Regions from separate parts of the Homo sapiens genome. Here region 2 is linked to region 1. Evidence: fine-mapped QTL for protein levels in blood plasma. A gene starts in region 1. The other region holds a variant in brackets. All regions are shown on one strand. Distances are from middle to middle. Region 1 holds the start of ANGPTL7 (angiopoietin like 7). Region 2 overlaps MTOR (mechanistic target of rapamycin kinase).

The links. A credible set is the group of variants that fine-mapping cannot tell apart. PIP is the posterior inclusion probability: the model's chance that the variant is causal. Protein levels are from antibody-based Olink assays in UK Biobank. Linkage for the fine-mapping came from a reference panel and not from the study's own genotypes, which makes the PIPs less certain.
Region 2: its variant is the best candidate, but not a certain one, in a credible set for the plasma level of the ANGPTL7 protein (UK Biobank, PIP 0.61).

The regions. Positions count from the first base shown.
Region 1 is chr1:11,183,715-11,194,143 of GRCh38, reverse strand. It overlaps ANGPTL7 (angiopoietin like 7), which reads right to left and starts at 4,789. Exons shown (of 5, transcript NM_021146.4): 1 at 4,189-4,789; 2 at 1,774-1,874; 3 at 370-564. The coding sequence starts at 4,564. All of the region lies in intron 28 of MTOR (mechanistic target of rapamycin kinase), which reads left to right. RefSeq lists an enhancer at 3,936-4,436.
Region 2 is chr1:11,148,480-11,158,908 of GRCh38, reverse strand. It overlaps MTOR (mechanistic target of rapamycin kinase), which reads left to right. Exons shown (of 58, transcript NM_004958.4): 30 at 1,618-1,757; 31 at 8,683-8,783. It overlaps MTOR-AS1 (MTOR antisense RNA 1), which reads right to left. Exons shown (of 4, transcript NR_046600.1): 4 at 9,371-9,639. It also overlaps the pseudogene RNU6-537P. Among named protein-coding and RNA genes, the nearest start is that of MTOR-AS1, 9.8 kb to the right of the region's middle. The variant T/C (reference allele first, on the strand shown) is at 6,508.

The DNA of each region.
Region 1 (10,429 bases):
AGTGAGTGCTTTCAGACCTTCAGCAAGGGTCCCCAAACAGTATCAGTAAGATTTGCACCTAAAGGACCTCATGCTCGGCCAGAGCAGAGACTAGTGTTCGGCACAGCTGACTGTTGAATTTGCTCTACTCTGGCCTGGGTCTGGCCTCTTCCTGTCCCACCTGCAGCCCCACTTTTGTCGGGGGGTTGGGGGGGTTGCAGAAAGGAAAAATACCTATTTTTCCTCAACTCCATTACAACTTGCAGGAAAACCATCACAATGAATATACAGATTTGTCTTGAATCAGAATAGGAATGGCACCCCCGGAGTTGTACGCGGTCATGTGTGGTGGCACTGGTCCAGTCATGGGGCCCCTGGCCTTGTGCTTACCTCCATCTCTACACGCAGCCGGGTTGGCTGTCTGGAGAGCCGGTGGATGTGTTCGTTCCCCAGCCAGAAGTCCCCACGGATGCTGCCAAAGCCCTGCTTGTACTGCTTCCAGTCCCGGTAGAAGGAGACAAGGCCACTTTTTCGTCTCTGGATGATGGTCCAGCCTCCGCCTGAAGTCTCCATGTCACAGAACACCTGAAGCAGAGGGGATACTCTGGTGAGGGACTTGCAGGGGCAGAAGGCAGGAGCAAGAGGGCAGGCTTCCCAACCTGTTCCTGTCCCTGCAGAGCCAGTAGATGTGTGCACTCCCGCAGTCACACTGGCTCACTCGGGCAGTGATGCTGCCCCACTGCTGGTGAGCTGGGGTGGGTGGTGCATTGCTCTGGAAGAACGATGCAAATTGGGCCCGGGGGTGAGTGCACATGAAGCTTGGAGGGAAAAATCCAGATACTTTTTTTTTTTTTGAAGCAGAATTTCACTCTTGTTGCCCAGGCTAGAGTACAGTGGTGCAATCTCGGCTCACTGCAACCTCCACCTCCTGAGTTCCAGTGATTCTCCTGCCTTCCTAGTAGCTGGGACCAGAGTGCCTGTCACCACACTGGGCTAATTTTTGTATTTTTAGTAGAGACTGGGTTTCAGCATGTTGGCCAGGCTGGTCTCAAAGTCCTGACCTCAGGTGATTGTTCCGCCCACCTCACCTCCCAAAAAACTTGGGATTACAGGTGTGAGCCACCATGCCTGGGTGAAAATCCAGATAATTTGATGCTGCCTTCGTGTTTTCTTTTCTCCTCCCCCAAGGAATAGCTGTTCTAGGACATGGCAAGAGATTTAAACTAAGTTATGTGGTGGTTATAAGAATGATCTGATCTATGTTAGAAGGCTTGTTGTTTGACTGATAATGATTTGAAGGGGCCAAACAGATGCCTGGGTTTGGAGTGCAGGGCATAAACTGAGTGTTTGCATAGCTCTGTGGTGTTTGGTGTGTTTGCTTGTGTTTGAGTTTTCCTTTTTTTTTTTTTTTTTTTTAATTGAAATGGAGTCTCACTTTGTCTCCCAGATTATAGTGCAGTGGCGTGATCTCGGCTCACTGCAACCTCTGCCTCCTGAGTTCAAGCAATCCTCCTGTGTAGCAGGGATTACAGGTGCCCACCACCATGCCTGGCTAATTTTTTTGTATTTTTAGTAGAGACAGGGTTTCACCATGTTGGCCAGGCTGGTCTTAAACTCCTGACCTGAAGTGATCCACCTGCCTCGGCCTCCCATAGTGCTGGGATTACAGGTGTGAGCCACTGCGCCCAGCCGAATTTTCCTTTCTTTAAACTGTGAATGGCCCTGTTGTTGTAGTCCCCTTGAGGGGGTGAAGGACAGGTATTAGGGCATGGCCAGTGACTGTAATGACCTCACCTCCAGTTCAGGGCTGCCCAGGAAGTCATCAGGAGGAAGCTTATACACTCCAGAGATGCGGTAGTTCTTCTGGTAGAGGGAAGAGCAGTCGTAGATGGCATCTACAAGAGAACAAACCACAGGGTGAGCATTTAGACCCAGTGGCTCCATCTGAGTTGAGTGTTTAGAGACTGAGCCTTTATTTCTACCCTGGGATTCTCAGTGGTGTTAATTACCCATCAGTGTCTGCATTTGGGAGAGGTGGATATGGGGAGATCCAGAGGGGGTGTATTTTGGCTTTACTAGCGGTGGAGCAGAGGGGTAGGGAAGCCCTTCACCTGGATAGCATTAGTGGGACGTTCCAACAGGTGGTTTCAGGTTAACTCTGAAATAAATTATTCTGCTATAGCTGGGCCATGAATTCTAGAAATGTTACAGTGTATGAGGGCCACGTAACAGATACTCCTGTCAGATAGATTCAGACTTCTTAGACAGCCGCCACTATAACAAATCAGTCGTGAATATCTCATAGAGTCTGGTTTTGTTGATGTTTCCTGGTTGGTTGTTTTTGTTGTTGTTCAGAGATGGTGGCTACTGCCACCTGAGACCATAATTAAGGGAGATAGATTTTATTATCACATATTTTCCCCTTCCATCCAGCTAGCACCTCAAAACACTCAGAAGAACCTTTGAGGCCTTCCTCCCAGAAGTTTTGTTAAAACAATGAAATGAGAGCATCAGACTGGCCAGTTTTTTTACTCTAGGGCCATGGAGCTGCTACTTTATGCAGGATTTAAGCTCTGTATTCTAAATATCAAAGAGCATAGTGGAAGAGACAGCCTTTTCTGATAGGATTCAGAGACTGCGGCCCTTACTATCCAAGAGAAGCTTCCTGCCTGCTATGTCTCGGGGTGCTTTTCTTGGTGACCACTGCACTGGGACCTTAGAGAGGAGCACCAAGATGGCAGATGGGAGTTGTCTGAGGCACATAGGTTCTCTTGCAGAGCACCTTGGGAAAGGGAGGTAGAGTACGTGTGCCTTCGCCATCACTATTCTTCATTTCGTCTTAGTGGTGAAAGCACCAACTTACTGCTTCCTCTAAGGGACTACCTACTTATAGAATATAAGGGTAACTGAGCACTTGGTCATAGAGAAGAAAAATAAGGAATGATGTCCTGGGCAAGAAGAGCAAGAGACCTGGTGGGAGAGCTGCACTTGACCCCAAGAACCTCCTTGCAGGATGGTGAGAAAGCCTCCTGTTTGGATGAGCAGGAAGTGGCACGGTCAGATTCCTCTGTCTGGCCTGGTCTTCCGCATGTCTGGTTTCATCTCACAGACCAAATCAGGACTCACTTGTCTGGAAAATGGCCTGAGAATACCTTTCTAATCCCAAACTGAGGGCCCGGAAGTCCATGCTTAGAAAGTGATTGATACATGTTGGTTCAGGTAACAGAATTTTCAAGCTTGGTTTCATGTTAAAACTTTTTCTTAATTTGAGCTGAGGTTAACCATTGACTTAGTCAGTAGAAGCTGATCATGTCTTTGTTCTTCATGTAGTTTATAATGGGACCAATGGTTTTTATATCAGCAAGAAATGACATGTCTATAGGATATGCTCCTTACAACTAATATTTTCCTGATAATTTCAGAAAACCAAATTTTTATCTCTAAACCGTAAATTCATGTTGGCCCACCTGAGCTGAGCTAACCAGAAATAAAAGTTATTTTGCAAAAGAAAGATTAAATTTATCTTATTTTTGGCCTATTAAGTCTATATTTCAGCATTGCATTTAAAAAATCCTGTATTCGGAGAAATTCATTTAAGACCATGGAAAAAAATAGACGTATCACAATTGAGGAACCTTAAGGAGCCGCATCCTTCCTGAACACAAAGGGACTCTTCACATGGTTATGTGTCTCTACACTTAACTCTGAGCCAATGAGAAGAGTTACGTTTACAGAGAGAGGACACAAAATTCCATTAATGCTCATTCCTGGTAAATCTTAGGAACACCAGAGAACTGTTTCTGGCAAAACTTTGCTTCCAGAGGAACAGCTGTTACAGTTTGGTGCTTCCTTGGAATTTCTTGAGATATAGCCTGTCAGCTCTTGGTGAGGAAGTAGCAGAGCTACACCAATCAGGAAGACTTGAACCCTGCTTCTAAGACTTGCTGGGTGACTTTGGGCAAACCATGTAGTATCTCAGCACTCCAAGATGGTAGGCTGAAACACTGTGTGGATAAAAGAGACCCGTGAAGGTGTTAGGTAAACTTACATAGCATTAGAAGTCAAAGGAAATACTGCATAAGCCTTTACTAAAGGGAAAGTGTACCCACAAAAGAGGCCCCAGTAGTGGTTCTGATGACCAGGATATGTAGAAGCAGTGCTGTAGATGGGGAGGCACTCCACGCTCCCTCAGGGGACTGGTCTCCTTACCTGCGGAGGTCTGAGTGACCGTCTGTGCTGCCTGCAGCTGCATGATGTCAATTTGGTTGTTCATCTCGGAGTACTTGCTCTCAGCATCTGTGAGCCGCGACTCCATGCGCTTGCTGTTGCTCTCCAGCTCCATCACCTGCATGACCACGCTGACCCAGTCCCTCTCCTGCTTCTTGTTCAGTTCACTCAGCAGGCTGCTAAGGTTGGCAACTTGGGCCTTGAGCTCCTTCACCTCCTCACAGCAGTTGGCCGCTTTGAGCTGTGGCTGTGCTGGTGTCTTGTGCTTAGAGAGCTTCTGCAGCCACGCTGGGTGGCTGACAAAGGCCACGATGAAAATGCAGAGCCAGGTCACAGCTGAGAGAGGCTTTTTCAGCATCTTTTGTGGGTTTGGGTGAGGAAGGCTCTTCCTTCAGGGGAGTCTGGAGATGCCCAGCTGAGGTCTGCAAAGCTGCAGCAGGCTGACTGAACCTTACGCTTTCACTCTGAGGGCCTCGCCACTTTGTTGTTTTCTCTCTTTCCTTGCTCTTTGCTAGCCTTTCTCAAAGCTTGAGTCTCTGACAGGGGAGCTGAATGGGTAGCCTATAGCTTTCCTTCCAAGCCCGAATGCTCCACAAGTCAGCATCTTAAATATTGTTTGCTGCCTGTACCTCCACCCCTACCATGGCTGCACCAGGCTTTAGCCCCTCCCAGCTCATCTGGGAGGGTCAGGTGCCTGTTGGGTGAAGTCAGCGGCAACTTAGGCCAGAGGAGGGGAGGAGGGAGATGGGGCGAGTCTTTCTTTCCTTGCCTGTACAGTCTCTGGGCTAAGACAAGAGGACTGTGAATTTGTGTGTTTCCAGTTTCGCCTATTAGATTATGCCCCTGCCAGCCACTGGCTCAACTCTATCAGCAAGCAGGACAGGGTCAGAAGAATTTCCAAATTCCGTTCAAAAGGTTATATAACCATGGGGTGAGCGTAAGGTAGGCGAAAGAGACGCTACTCACCCAGGGAGGCCTGTTAATGTAATCCATGCTGTTTATATGAGGATCTGGTATATTTTGACATCCTGCTGAATATGCTTTTATCTAGGCTGATTATTCCCATCTCTGATCATTATTTAGTATTTTATAAAATCCTTACTCAACCTGGATCTAACACTATCTCACATTTGAAATCTTCCAACTTAGAAAAGTTCTAGAAATAGAAGAATAGAGTAAATCTCTTAGGAAGCCAAAAAAAGACTTTGTAGCCACAGGGTTTGGACAGTTGTCTTTTTACATGCTTTCTCCTTCAACAAAGAGAGGGCCAGTATTAGCATATAACACTTGATATTTTGCAAGGAGGTGTCAGAAGATTACAACAGAGATGAAAACTCAGCAGTGCCAAGCATGTCTGGGATTGGTCACCCATGCTTCTGTCAGTTTCTAGGCAGGACAGAGAACAGGCCCATCCTTAGCCCGTGGTTCAAAACTTGGAAAATATATTAAAATATAGAGAAAAGAATCCCTGTCACCTAATAAATCCATATCTAGAGTCTCATTTCCCTCTTTCTTTGCTGGTATGGTTTGCAATTTGAAATTATTCCTCCTCTATTTGTATATGACTTTGTATCTAAAAAACATGAATATTGTAATTTTTCATGTACTATATATGAAGGACAATGCTCTTTTGAAAAGAAATGTGAAAAACATGGAGTTTCAGCAAACATCCTTAAAATAAGCTTTTCACTAAGAATCTATACAAAGGTTCCTCTGTCCTTAAAACAGTAACTCTGTCTTTGGAACATACGATTGCTGTTTCCATGTTATGGAGCCACTCAGGCAGTTACTTGTACTGTTGTAGTCAGCGTGGGTCCTTCCCACATAAGCCTGATGCCTGACAGCTCTCCTCCCATGCCATAATCCCCCAGAGCTCTTTTCCAGTCAGGGCTTCTAGCTCCTCAGAAAGTAATTTCTGTTCAGGCAGCTGGAGTTACTGAACAATTTTTTTTTTTCTCAGAATCAAAAAGCAGTGGAGGATCAGGTGGATCAGAGTTTGTTTTCTCACATACCCAGCCTCCTTTGCCTGCTAAAGGGTGAGGATGTTACTGATACCCTTATAGCAACTTGGCATTCTAATCAAAAGATTCTGTTGAGAATTGGCACTGTCTGCCAGTCTGCTCTCTTTTTGCAAATGTCTAGCCCAGCTGGGCACCACAGCCTTAGCTCCATAGCATTCATTTTAGTAACGAGACTCTGGCCCCAAATATTGGCATCCTACAAGGTCTGCTAAAAATAGGGATTTTCAAGTGGATCTCCTGGCCATCAAATGACACTGAGCTTAAACCACATGCCACAGAAGTGCTATGTACCATACAGTCATGTATAGCAGGGGTCCCTAATCCCCAGGCTGCAGACCTGTACTTGTCCATGGCCTGTTAGGAATAGGGCCATACAGCAGGAGGTGAGTGGCAGGTGAGTGAGCATTACCGCCTGAGCTCTGCCTCCTGTCAGATCGGTGGCAGCATTAGATCCTCACAGGAGTGTGAACCCTGTTGTGAACTGCACATGTGAGGGATCTAGGTTGCGTGCTCCTTGTGAGAATCTAAGTACTGCCTGAAGATCTGAGGTGGAACAGTTTTACCTCAAAACCATCCCCCATCTCCCCACCCCCACCCTGGTCCATAGAAAAATTGTCTTCCACGAAACCAGTCCCTAGTGCCAAAAAGATTGGGGACCACTGATGTATAGCATCCCACGTGACCCTGCTGCCTTGGAACTCTCATGTAACAGTGCAGCAGAGAAAGCACAAAAGAACAGTGGAACTTTGTGGAGTTCTAGCCAGCTTTTGTTTATTCTTCCCAGTAGCTCACCCAAACAGGAAAGTGTTATGAATTGATTCTTATATGTGGGCAGAAAATAAATTAATCATTCATATTTGTACCCCATGTAACAGTCCCTTTTAGGAAAGGTAGGAGGAGGTTCGTAAGTTTGTATTGGAAGCATCTAGCCTTTAGCATGAGTGTCTGGTCTTTGACATTTATTTTCTGGAAACTTATTTCTAACATAAGGCAATACTTGAAGACAGAAGACAGAAGCTCTTGAATTGCATAAGCTACCCAAATGTCAATACTCACCCCCCCTCCAGTTTTGAGGAAAAATAGCTAATTAAGGATATTTCTCATGCCAGAAGATTATCTATTTTCTAAAACATCCACAACCTTATGATGTCCTAGATTCTGAATATCTAAATGAAGGAAAAAGAAGTCCTTGTTTTGAGCACAGCTAAGCCAGTAGAGAAAACCATGAAGGATGTGGAGGACTAAAATGGTATTGCCTTCTCTGAAAGAGGCTTTTAAATCCTTCTTCTGCCTTTCAGTGAGCAGAGTGACCTTAAAAATGGGAATTAACTGACAAAATCTGGAAAACCTAGGTTGGATACTGTTTAGATTTTCCTTTTCTCCATTTTGCTGGTGTTGAAAGAGGGCTAGCTTGGTGCTCCTGGAAAAGGTGTTTATGAAAATTAAGCTTTTGTTCTTAATGAAAAAAGTCAGTGAGGTTGTACTCAACCTGGAGGTTCTCAAAAGACTTCACAGTGTTTGGGCCGCACTGCCTTGGGCTGGCACCAAGGTAGTCTGAGGGTCACAGGGCAGGGGAGCACCTAGGGGTGGTCTCTCCTTCTATCCAGAGAGGAGCATCAGATCCCATTTGCTTGAAAATGCCCCGTTGGAGAGACTGCTGCCCACTCTCAGCTTGTGGAATGAATACATCTCAGAAGAAGCTGCCTTGCTGTTAGTTTTAATTGTGTATCTCAAAGGAATATTTCACTTCTTCTGAAGTCTTTGAAAAAACCACAGCCTGCCATACTCTATACAGCCGTTGAATATCTGCCTTTTTTTTTTTTTTTTTTTTTTTGAGACGGAGTCTTGCTCTGTCGTCCAGGCTGGAGTGCAGTGGCACGATCTTGGCTCACTGGAAGCTCTGCCTCCCGGGTTCACGCCAATTCTCCTGCCTCAGCCTCCCAAGTAGCTGGGACTACAGGCACCTGCCACCATGCCCAGCTAATTTTTTGTATTTTTTAGTACAGGCAGGGTTTCACCATGTTAGCCAGGATGGTCTCGATCTCCTGATCTGTTGATCCACCCGCCTCGGCCTCCCAAAGTGCTGGGATTACAGGTGTGAGTCATCATGCCCGGCCACATATCTGCCTTTCTAGCACTCCATCCCATTCCTGTCTCAACTGAAAGTCCAAGTCCATCACAGAAGATATTTCCATCTTTTCCCTGAGCTTTCTAATTTGCCACTTCTATCAAAGAATGTGTCCTGAACCTATTAGAAGTCTTTTCTCTCAGGCCTTCTCTTAGAGTCCTGTTTTGTTTTGTTCTGTTTTGTTTTGTGACAGGGTTTCACTCTGTTCAGGCTAGAGTGCAATGGGGCAACCATGGCTCATTGCAGCCTCAACCTCCCAGTCTCAAGTGATCCATCCACCTCAGCCTCCCGAGTAGCTAGGACTGCAGGTATGCACCACCACACCCAACTATCTTTTTTTCTTTCTTTCTTTCTTTCTTTTCTTTTTTTTTTTTTGTAGTGATGGGGGTCTCACTGTGTTGCCAGGGCTGGTCTCGAACTCCTGGGCTCAAGTGATCCTCCAGCCTCAGCCTCTCAAAGTGCTAGGATTACAGGCATGAGCCACCACACCTGGCCAGAGTCAGTTTTAAATTATGGAATATAGTAAAAAAAAAAAAAAAGTCTCTCTGATTTCTGTCAGGACTTTATAGCTCTGTTAGCCTCCACTCAAGTTGCACAATCCAGCGATTATTCTGGCCCAGTGTCTGGCAGTCTAGTTAGACAGCTGAACTCTTGGACAGTGTGACATGCTAGGATGGGAGACACAGAGGACAAGGAGGGCCTTCTAGAGAAGTGATACCTAGGTTTTAAAGAAAAAGGAGGAAATAGCCAGGAATGGGAGAGGATGTTGTAAGCAAAGGTGCAGCTATGTGAAAGACTTGGACTAGTGGGAGAATGTAAGTAGTCGAGTGTGGCCTAAGAGTCAAAGGGAAGAAGAATGGCAGCAGAAGCTAAAGCTGGAGAGGTGGAGGGGGGCCGTGCCCGGGGAGCCCAGGTGAGGAGCGGGACTGATCCTCTGTAGACATGGGAAGGAATCCTAGAGGTTTTTCCCTCTTGTTCCATTGTTTTCCTGAGTTCCACCAGGAAAGTGGCCTTGGTAATTGCCAAACAATTTTTTTTTATTTTTTATTTTTTTTAGAGACATAGTCTCATTCTGTTACCCACCCTGGAGTGCTGTAGTGCAATCATATAGCTTACTGAAACCTGGAACTCGTGAGCTGAAGCAGTCCTCCTGCCTGAGCCTCCAAAGTAGCTGGGAATACAAGCGCACACCAACACGCCTGCCTGTTTTTAAATTTTTTTGTAGAGACGGAGTCTCACTATGTTGAGGCTGGTGTGGAACTCCTAGCCTCAAGAGATCTTCCCATCTCAACCTCCCGAAGTGCTAGGATTATAGGCCTGAGCCACCACACACAGCCCAAACAAGATTTTTTCACCGCAAATGAATGATTTAGAACGTGAGAATTTCTTAAAATTGTAATGCATTCATATTAAATACCCTGACGGGGTCATTTGGCATTAGGATTAAGGAGGTAGTACATATAGCACTTGAGTTCTTAGGCCTAGAAGCAGACAAATCTGGATTCTAATCCCTCCCTAGCACTTGGTTGCTGTGTGGCCATGGACATATTACTTCTCTGAGTTTGCCAACCTGTGAAATGGAGATAAAAATCAAAACTATCTCATACCACAGGCTTTTCATGAGAATTAAATAAAGCAAAGGGTTAAATAACCAAGGTATTTTTGGATAAGGAAAATAAATTTGGAAGAGTTACACTACTACATATCAAGATTTATCATAAAGCTGCAGTAAGTAAGGCAGTACAGTAGTGACATGGATGAACAAATGGAACAGAATTAAATGTCCAGAAACAGACCCACATATGTAGAGATACTTAATTTTGTGTATTTATATTTATGTATTTATTCCTTTCCTCTCAAGCCATGTGATATAGACACTTGATTTATAACAAGGTAGCACCACAGAGTGGTGAGGAAAGGACTGCTAAGTCAGCTCAGTAGCCTTATGGGGGAAGAAAATTTTTTTTTTTCCCTCAGTGATCCTTTTTCTGAAAGAAAAGACTGTTGATCGTTACCTCACACCACACACAAAAGCTCAAGTCCAGGAGATTTAAACTCTTAAGTGTGAACAGTA
Region 2 (10,429 bases), 35 kb after region 1:
TATGTAACAGCAATCTCATTAGAATTTTGTGTGATTCATTGCTTAAACCTTATAGTTTCTGCAATCTATTGCAATTCAAAATATCCTACCCTCTAACTGACCCACTCCATATGCTGCCCCCTCTCCCCTCTGCTTGTTCATGCTGAGTGTATGCCACACATTAGTCACCAGCTCTTTTTTTTTTCTTTTCCACCCAGTATAGAAATTTGAAATGAGAAATCTACCAGTGCTTTTAAATTTTACAGTTTTTGTAGTCACTCTTTTCTAAGTTTCCTATTTTGTATTTAGGCATAATAGATATTATTTTGGACAGGCTTGAAAAATGAAGTTGAGATAGTTTGCCTTACGTGGAGCCAGATACGCTCATTTTGACAAACTCCACTGATGTTGGGCAAAGACTTTATGGCAGCAGAATTAGTCTAGGGGCAGCAGAGGGCACCGGCTCTGCCAGAAAGAACCAGACCAGGGAAAGTAGGTACAAGGGAACAATCTCCAGCATAAATGACCTCTTTTCAGAGGTTCAAGAAGAAAAGATTATTTTAGACAGCTTAGCAGAGTAGTTGTTAGTCTACATACTGCACAAACATCAGTTTTATTTAGAAAGGGGAAGAGGGTAATGGGAGAAACTAGTGTGGGCCCTGCATTATATCATACAAATTTCACTGCAGAATCATATTGTTGTTAAAGAAATCCCTAGAGAGCCACTACCCTTGCCTGTGCAAAAATAGTCATTTATTGAGCTGATGATGAAGTAGCCCAGGAGAGAAACTGAGATGGAGGGCAGACAGAAAGCATATAAAACAGTCTCCTGATCATTTGGAGAGTCATAGTCTGTAACTTTCAGACTGTAGCACCTCCTACTCACGTGGACAACACCCTCTTTCAGCGTGGCACACCATCTGCTAGGGTAATGCAATCCCTCCTTTGGCCCCTGACACTGGTAAACCTGCCAAGCACTGAGCAGGAGGGAACATTGGATGGGAGACTCTAGAAGAATAGGGGAAAGACTTTCCAAAAAATTTTAAGTGGTGGTGTTATATTTTAAATTATTATTTCCTGAAAGTTTAAAAATGTGTTAAGAAATGCAGAGAATCAAGAGGTTTTAAAAAGTGAGTTGTTTTCCTCCAGCAAACATGCAGATGAGGCCTGGTCTTTCTGGCCCCATCAGGAAAGCAGCTGCCATCCCTGTCAAGTAGCCCAGTGTCAGCACTCCAGCAGATCGGAGCGATGGCACCTTTGAAACAGCTCTGGTGCTCTGGTCGACGTTTTCTTCTATCCCTAAATGATTTCCCCTGTCCTCGTGTCCGCACATCCTGGTGTGTTCTGATGACCCATGTGTCTGGGAAGGAAATAATGGGGGAGGAGTATGGCCTGACGTCTGCTCTCAGATAATCCCAGGATCATTCCATCCATGTGCCAAGGAACCAGTATTTCCACCTTCCCCAAGCAGCACTCCTCCAGATTGTCTGAAGTTGTTTTTAATCCAAGCCCAGACGTAACTGTGATAGGTGAAGTGTCATGCGTACAGCAGCACATTAGGAAAGAGAGTATGTGGATTAAACAATGTGATCCCTTCTTCTGTGTACCTCACAGCAGTCTTTCTTTCCCATGTAACAGGAGATCCAGGCTACCTGGTATGAGAAACTGCACGAGTGGGAGGATGCCCTTGTGGCCTATGACAAGAAAATGGACACCAACAAGGACGACCCAGAGCTGATGCTGGGCCGCATGCGCTGCCTCGAGGCCTTGGGGGAATGGTGAGCTTCCTAGAATGATGGCATGTGTGGCTGCAAGAGACTTCGTCTCTTTGATCTTTGGATTTGAAAGGAAGGCTTCCCCCACACGGAGTTCTCACTTCAGACTCATTTTGTTCCACTTGATACTTCTCAGGAATCATCTTTCACTTTTGGTGTTTTTCTCTCTCCATTCTATCTCAGCTGCTAAGTAGGAAGGCCTTCACTTAAACTTTATAATGCTCTAGGACAGGACAGCCTTGGGGGTGCTCCTGGGATCTACTTCTCCTGTCTACTCTCCTGATCTTTACTGACCCAGTGAAGAGCTCATATTCTTACTTGGCAACCTTGATTTTTAAAATTAGCTCTTGCAGATGTTTTTAGGAAAGAAGAACAGTGACTGCCCTCTTCAGGTGCTTCACCTATATCGGATGCTTACTGTGTGTCCAGCACTATGCCAGGCTCCAAGGAAACAAAATACACAAGAAAACAGGCCTTTCCTGTGAGGTTGATGAGACAGCCACGTAAACAGAGGGTTATTATAGCCTGAGAGGATGTTGATAATGTGTGAGCCATGCTACCTTGAAAGCCCAAAGGAGGAAGCAGGGTGATTTTGCAGTACTTCCTGGAGGAAGGACTGAGAGTTAGGAGATAGGTAAAGGAGAAGGTAGGGGGGAAACAGGTACTCCAGGTGCAAGCAACAGTAATGCGTAACTGAGAACATTTGGCTAGGTTTTGGTTTGGAGAGTTGCTTGGGAATGTTGAAGGGAAAAAATGGCCTCCATTCTGTTTCCAACAACAAGTGCAACTTTTAAAAAATAGTTAAAATAAAATGCTATACTATCATTGTTAAACTGTTTAATTGCAGTTTTAAATGACTAAAACAGGCCGGGCACAGTGGCTCACACCTGTAATCCCAACCCTTTGGGAGGCCAAGGCAGGCAGATCATTTGAAGTCAGGAGTTTGAGACCAGCCTGGCCAACATGGCGAAACCTCGTCTCCACTAAAAATAAACAATTAGTTGGACGTGGTGTTGCAGGCCTATGATCCCAGCTACTCGGGAGGCTGAGGCAGGAGGATCACTTGAACCCGGGAGGCGGAGGTTGCAGTGAGCTGAGATTGCACCACTGCACTCCAGCCTGAGTGACAGAGCGAGACTCTATCTCAAAAAAATAAATAAAAATAAATAAAAAATAAATGACTAAAACAAAGTTCCATGCTACCTCCCGACTAGTAGGTTATCCCTACTTTCTCTGGAACATGATACTGAGGGTCCACTGTTCCTTCATTCAGCCAGTAACTATCACGTGTGTATTCATTGCTAGTGTCTGTGCCAGGCCCTAGGGACACAGCCGTGAGCAAGACAGTTACAGCCCCTGCCTTCCCAGAGCTTACAGGACAGACAACCAGGCTGTCGTAATACATTGTGATACCATCAACAAAGGAGCCCAGGGGGCTGTGGGTAATAGGAAGCACCCTAATCAGCCTTGGAAGATACCGGGAGGAAACGATATCTAACTTGGACCTGTACAATGAGGAGCACAGTATGGGGGATTTTAGTAGGCCTTTTTGTTCAGATTCTTCTCTGTGACCCCCTGTCTTCAGAAATAAGGATGTACCTTTCCTCCAGGTATAGGGAAGGCATCTCTCACATGAGGGCCTTATGACCTCCTTCAGGGGAAGGTCAAAATATTTTTCCTAGATGTTATGACCTGCTTCAGGGCATAAGGGCAGGGGAGAGTCAGAGTAATTTTTTTTTTGCTGCCATTTTCTTAAAATATTCAGTATGCCAAGGTGTGCTATATTTCAGGGTAGTATATCCTGACCCCCATCACAGGGATGTACATTGACGGCAATGTGCTGTTTTTACCATTTTGCACTCTGCTGTTTTCACTTAACAAGTCTAGGCCACTGTTCCATATCAGCACCTGTAGAGCTACTGCCTCATTTTTTTAATAGCTGCATGATATTTCATCATATCAATAAATCTAGTCTATTTAATATAGGCAAATTTTTATTTGTTTAGACATTTCCTGCCTTGGAAAGTTTAAGAATATTGGACAAAATCAAAGCAAGTCTTCTAAAAGAATGATCTTTCACTACATGTAGTCTTTCTGTACTACCTTAGCCTCCCTTGTAGCTGAGACTACAGGCACACACCACCACAGTGGGCTAATTTTTTTTATTTTTTGTAGAGACGGAGTCTCACAGTGCAGTCTAGGCTGGTTTTGAACTCCTGGGGTTCAAGCGATCCTCCCTCTTTGGCCTTCCAAAGTGCTAGGATTACAGGTGTGAGCCACTGTGCACAGCCTTCTTTTTTTTTTTTAAGAGGCAGGACTTTAATCTGTCTCTCAGTGGAGTACAGTGGTGTGATCACAGCTCACTGTGGTCTTGAACTCCTGGACTCAAGCAATCCTCCCACCTCAGCCTCCTGAGTAGAAGGAACTACAGAAATGCACCACCATGCCTGGCTAATTTTTTTAAATTATTTTTTGTAGGGATAGGGTCTCATTATGTTGCCAAGTTTGGCTGTTATTTCTTAATATAAAGTTATTACTACATCCCCAAGATAGAAGATGTTATAATGTTTTGCATGAAAATTTAATGTTAGTGAACTTAGCCTTAGGCATTGGATCATATATATATATATAGAGAGAGAGATAATATTCCACAATTATTTGAAAGTGGCTTGTCTGATTTAACCATCATTAGGAAGATTTTTATTTATTTTTATTTTTTTATTTATAGGAAGTGTTATTTATTTTTATAAATTAACATTAAAAGGCTGAGTGTGGTGGCTCACACCTGTAATCCCAAAACTTTGGGAGGCTGAGGCAGGCGGATTGCTTGAGCCCAGAAGTTTGACACTAGCCTGGGCAACAACAACAACAACAAAAATTCCATGTTCATTTACCTCAATAAATTTAGGAAGCATGTCTTTTAAAATCCGCTTTATTTATTTATATAACTAAAGCTGTTGTTGTTGTTGTTGTTGTTGTTGTTGTTTTTCTCAGTCCAACAAGTATCTAAAGCTGTATTGTCCAATATGGTAGCCTCTAGCCACATGTGGCTTTTTTTTTTTTTTTTTTTTTTTTTTTTTTTTTTTGAGACAGAGTCTCACTCTGTCACCCAGGCTGGAGTGCAGTGCTGTGATTTCGGCTCACTGCAACCTTCACCTCCCAGGGTCAAGTGATTTTCCTGCCCCAGCCTCCTGAGTAGCTGGGATTACAGGCATGCACCACCACTCCCGGCTGATTTTTGTATTTTTAATGGAGATGGGGTTTCGCCATGTTGGCCAGGCTGGTCTTGAACTCCCAACCTCAAGAAATCCACCTGCCTCAGCCTCTCAAAGGTCTAGGATTACGGGTGTGAGCCACTGCATCCGGCCTTATGGCTATTTTTAAATTAAATAAAATGTGAAATTCAGTTCCTCAGTCATACCACATTTTAGGTGTTCAGTAGCCACATGTGGCCAGTGGCTGCTGTATTGGACAGTGCACATAGAGAACTTTTCCATCATCACAGAAAGCTCTATTGGACAACACTGATCTAAGGCAAAAGAAAAGTATGTTAATAAGAATTATTCACATTATTTCAAAAACAATTTTTCTAGTTTCATATCAGCTGTCATACAATCATATCTTGTTATGAGAAAGATAAAACGAGATGGAAGTGTTCTTAAAATTCAACTCTAATCAATTCCTAAAATACTGCAATGTTTCACTGTTGCCATTGGATTTACATATAAATATCACAGCCTGGCATTCAAAGTCTTTCCTATTATGGCACCAGCCCGCTTCTTCAGCACATTTCTCTGTGAACCCTTCTCTCATAATCTGAGCTCTGGCCAAATTATTCACTCTTCTCCAAGTCCTACATTCATTCGTTCCATTCTTTGAATTGCCCTCTTCTTCTGCCTCTTTTTCTACTTTTGAAATCCTCTCCACTGTTTCTTCCCTCTTGAAACCTCTCCTGGCCCCTTCCCCTTCCACTCCTCTCCTTTCACATTAAAGATGACCACTTTTCCTAGCTGGGTTAGTAGGAGCAGATTGGATACATTGGAAGAGACTTGAGATGTGGTTTCCTCCAATTCCTTTGTGTTATAGTTGAAGAAACTGAGGCTCACAGAAGTTGAGAAAACCGAGCTGAGTGATATCGATCTCCTGATGTTGCCGTTCTCAGTCCCAAATACCTCTGACCTCTTGGGTTCTTTCCCGTTTTATAGTTACCCATAAAGCGTAAGTGGCTAGTAATGCTGACCAAAGGATTTAAGAATGTGGGAGACTAAAAGAGGTTTTAAAACGAGTCGAAAGAAGCAGAATATTTTTCCTGATCATATGCAGGTTTCTGATACGGTTTATTCAGTCAATTCTGTTTAGAGTGCAATTTCTAAATTTCTTTTGTGTGCGTATATCCTGAATATGCCTGAGGCAGATGTTCATCAGAGGTGACATGAAGAATGATCTGGAGTTAACAGTGAGCTGAGACCCTTCCCATTTCCCCATTCTTATCTGCCTCCAGGAGGCTGTGAGAGCTAGGCAACCCGCACCCCCTGCCCTGCCCAGCCCTATGGTGCAGGCAGCCACGCCTGCAGCCAAAGTGAACTAAAGTGAACCCCCTCCTCAAACTGTTCCCCACACAGCTAGGTATTGAGAACAGATTCCTCGGGAGTGAGATCATAGGCCCTCAACCCTAAGAGGAGCCATGGAGCCATTCCAAATGAAAGAATACTTCCTAAGCTTTTTATTTGTTTTAAATCTTCAGGGACCATGC[T/C]ATCTTCTCTGTATCGTTCCAATTTTAGTATATGTGCTGCCAAAGCAAGCACTTTCTGCGTTTTTTGCCAGAACGCTAGGTGAGAAAATCAAAGTCTCAGAGGGTGCACCTTTTACCCAGTCCTCCCTATGTGTAGTGAAAGGTATCAGAAAAACATATCCTAGTTGTTGCCCCATAAACAATCTCATGTTTTTTATTTATTTGGTTTTGCCCCTCACCCAACCGCCCTTGAGAGGTAGGACTCGGTATATTCTGCATTATTTTTTGTAACAAATGTTTGTGGAAGAGCAATGCTCTTGTCTGTGTACTGACCAAGCTCTGACAGCTGTTCCCACACAGCTGCATGGTGAAGGCCGTGCGAAGTTCACTGCTAGGGCTTGCCCTTCTGAGTTGCTGTTCCTACATTGCTCCCTGCTTTGTCTCTTGGGGTAACAATTTGTGGGATTTCAGCACTGAACTTGCTTCCTGCTCTAGATGAAAAGAAAAACTACATCCTTGGTCCTGTGGCACAGAATCAGCTGATCCTGAAAAAATAATAGAGGGAGGCTGAGTTAGGAGGGACAGCTTGCATGAAGGATGCATTCATCCAAGTTGCTTGTGTTCACCAGCTGTAAATTTTGAACTATAGGGTTGGAAGGACCATTTGGAGATCATGCAGCTTTCTCTTCTACCTCTAGTCAGGATCCCTACAAAAATATGCTGTGCAGATGAGCTGTGCCTCTGCTTTAAGCCAGTGGTTCTCAAACTGTGACCCCTGGTCCAGCAGTTTTGGCGTCACATAGAAACTTGTTACAAATGCACATTCTCAGCCCCTATCCCAGCACTACTGAGTCAGAAACTCAGAGGGTGGAGCCCAGCCATCTGAAGGAGCCTTCCAGGGGATTCTGATGCACTTAGTAGTTTGAGAACTACTGCTCTAAGGGAACCCCTAGCAGGGCCCAGGAGTGAAGATTTCTAAGTCTCGGTGGCAGAAAACCAACACAGAGGTTTATCCTGTTCCCTTAATGGAGCTTCAGTAAATGCATAGGGCATCATGGCCACCAGTTCCTCTTTTTGGTCTCAGCTCTGTATTGAGCCAGAGTGCTTGTGTCCCTGGTTTTCTTGATCATGTGCCAGAGAGACAACAAAGTTAATATCTGCTGTACTGCGATGCTGGATAATGGCCCTGAGTACCTCTCCTAGACGTGGTCCACAGTCAGCTTCTTGGTGAGCTCAGCCTAGATTCCTTCTGCAGGGATTGACTTCAGCATCTTTATCCCCGCCCTCCTACACCACCTTAGAGCGCAGAGCAGCTCATGTTCCATGAGGCTTCTGACCTGGGCCACTTAGAACTTGTGCCCTTCCTCATGACTCCACCTCCAGTGCCAAGTTAAATCATCCTGCAGCATGTCTTTCAGAAAGCAGGAAAAATTAAGGAGTCTCCTAGCTGCATCTTGAAGCTCACATGAAATCAGGGACTCGGATTTGCATAATAGCCGAGTTTATTTTTTTTCACTGAGAAGCGAAACATGAGAGGGAGTTTCAACAGTCAATAGCAAGACCCTATTCTAGGGCTTCCATGTTCTCTTTTGTTTATTGGGGTGTCTTAAGCACCATTTATATCTCAATATCTCATAGTCCTCCTTCACATTCAGCAATTGTGCAAAATTCTGAGAATAAGCAGCATCTAGCCTTCTGGTAGATGTGACCATTGTGGAGCCTTTCTTCTGTACAGATTGATTTCATCTGGGTTTCATTTCAGACTGAAACCATTGGTATAATACTTTTAGGAGCCAGTTCTCCCTATAGCTTTGAGCCCAAAATGAATGTCCAGATGCGTCTCTTCAGATTGCTTTCTCTGTAGGCCTGCCAAAGGGAAAGAGCCCAGAATTCTTTGGCATAGGAGAGAAGTTATTTAATATTTATGAAGGGAGCCAGATGTTCAGGACATTTCATATCACAGAGTTAGGCATGGTTCCTATCCTTGATAAACTCACCCAGAAAAATTACGAGCACCGGGTCATAGAAACAACAAATAGCCCATTGATTCTCTATTATGTGACCTAGTAGAATGTGCTTTTTTATTAAAGGTGTCCAGTTCCTGTGTAGTCCTCACCTAACCCAAGGGGCAGGAGAGGAAGATTGGTAGTTTAAGGAGATTTGGATTAATCTGACTATATAATTCATTTTCTTCAGGGGTCAACTCCACCAGCAGTGCTGTGAAAAGTGGACCCTGGTTAATGATGAGACCCAAGCCAAGATGGCCCGGATGGCTGCTGCAGCTGCATGGGGTTTAGGTAAAGCTTCCCTCACAGGCACCCTGTGAAGGATGGGGTGAGTGAGGCTAGGGGCTCGCATCAGAAGAGTAAGGTGCTGGCTCTAGGTGGAGATCCAGGTCTATGGAAGGGTAAAAATGGTCTGTATCCACCTACTTCTACACCTTCCATCTGTCCTTTCTACCTGATGATTTTTATTAACTTGTTAGACATGGGGAAAATTGGATCTTCGTGGGGAGGCCAAGGAAAACGGTGCACAAAATCAAAATTGAGATTTAGTGGGTGAGAAATACACACTTAGCACACTCACACAGAGTACTGATGCCAGATGCTTTTCCCCATACACCAAGCCATTGTCAGCAGACACCAGTGGGGTGTCAAGTAGTTCATTTCTGACCCTATCTACTTGGAAATAGCATCAGATCCCACAGGTTAAGGGCTCGTCCCAAAATATCGCCCCACTTCAGATGCCAATCACAAGTTCCAGGTTGTGATTTGTGTTTCTCACTGACCAGCTGTAAATCAGGGTTCCCATAACCCTCCTCCTCAGGTTTGATAATTTGCCAGGACAGCGCACAGAACAAAAGGAGACACTTTACTTACATTTACTTGTTTATTATAAAGGGTATTATAAAAGATAGAGGTGAACAGGTACAATGAGGGAAGGTCTAGAAGGGTCTGGAGTGCAGAAGCTTCTGTCCTGTGGTACTGGGGTTTACCTTCACCCTCCCAGCACCTTCATCAACCTGGAAGCTCATTGTTCAAGAGTTTTTATTGCCTTTCATTTTCAACCTCTTCACCTTTCCTGGATGTCAGTGGACAGGGCTGAAAGTTCAAACCCGATAATTACTTGGTCTTTCTGGTAACCAGCCCCATCCTGGAAGGGGAGAAGGAGGGAGAGACAACATAAGGCAAAGTTTAAGTCACATGCTACTCAAAGAACCAATCTCTTTGGCAATAGGTTTGGATATTCTGTAAGGTTAGTGGGGTCATACACCTACACATTCAGCAGGGTACTAGGGTATGCATCTCTGTGTCTCCATTTACCTCTTCAGTTGAAAGCAGAAATAAGAGATGAGAAGGCTGGGTGTGGTGACTCACACCTGTAATCCCAGCACTCTGTGAGGCTTGGGCAGGAGGATCACTTGAGCCTGGGAGTTTGAAATCAGCCTGGGCAACATAGTGACACTCCGTCTCTACCAATTATATATATATATACACACACACACACACATAATTTTTTTTTTTTGACATGGAGTCTCGCTCTGTCACCCAGGCTGGAGTGCAGTGGCACGATCTCGGCTCACTGCAACCTCCGCCTCCCGGGTTCAAGCAATTCTCTGCCTCAGCCCTCCGAGTAGCTGGGATTCCAGGCACTGCCACCACGCCCGGCTAATTTTTCTATTTTTAGTAGAGACGGGGTTTCACCATGTTGGCCAGGCTGGTCTTGAACTCCTGATCTCGTGATCCATCCTCCTCGGCCTCCCAAAGTGCTGGAATTACAGGTGTGAGCCACAGCGCCTGGCCCTAATTTTTTTGTTTTAAAGAGAGATGAGGAGAAGTCTCTTTAGGTTCCTGCATCCAGCTATGCCTAAAGTCATAAAGTCATCTCTATAATTGGCCTTCTCAATAAATAAATTTTTTCTTAAACCATTCTACCTTATCAG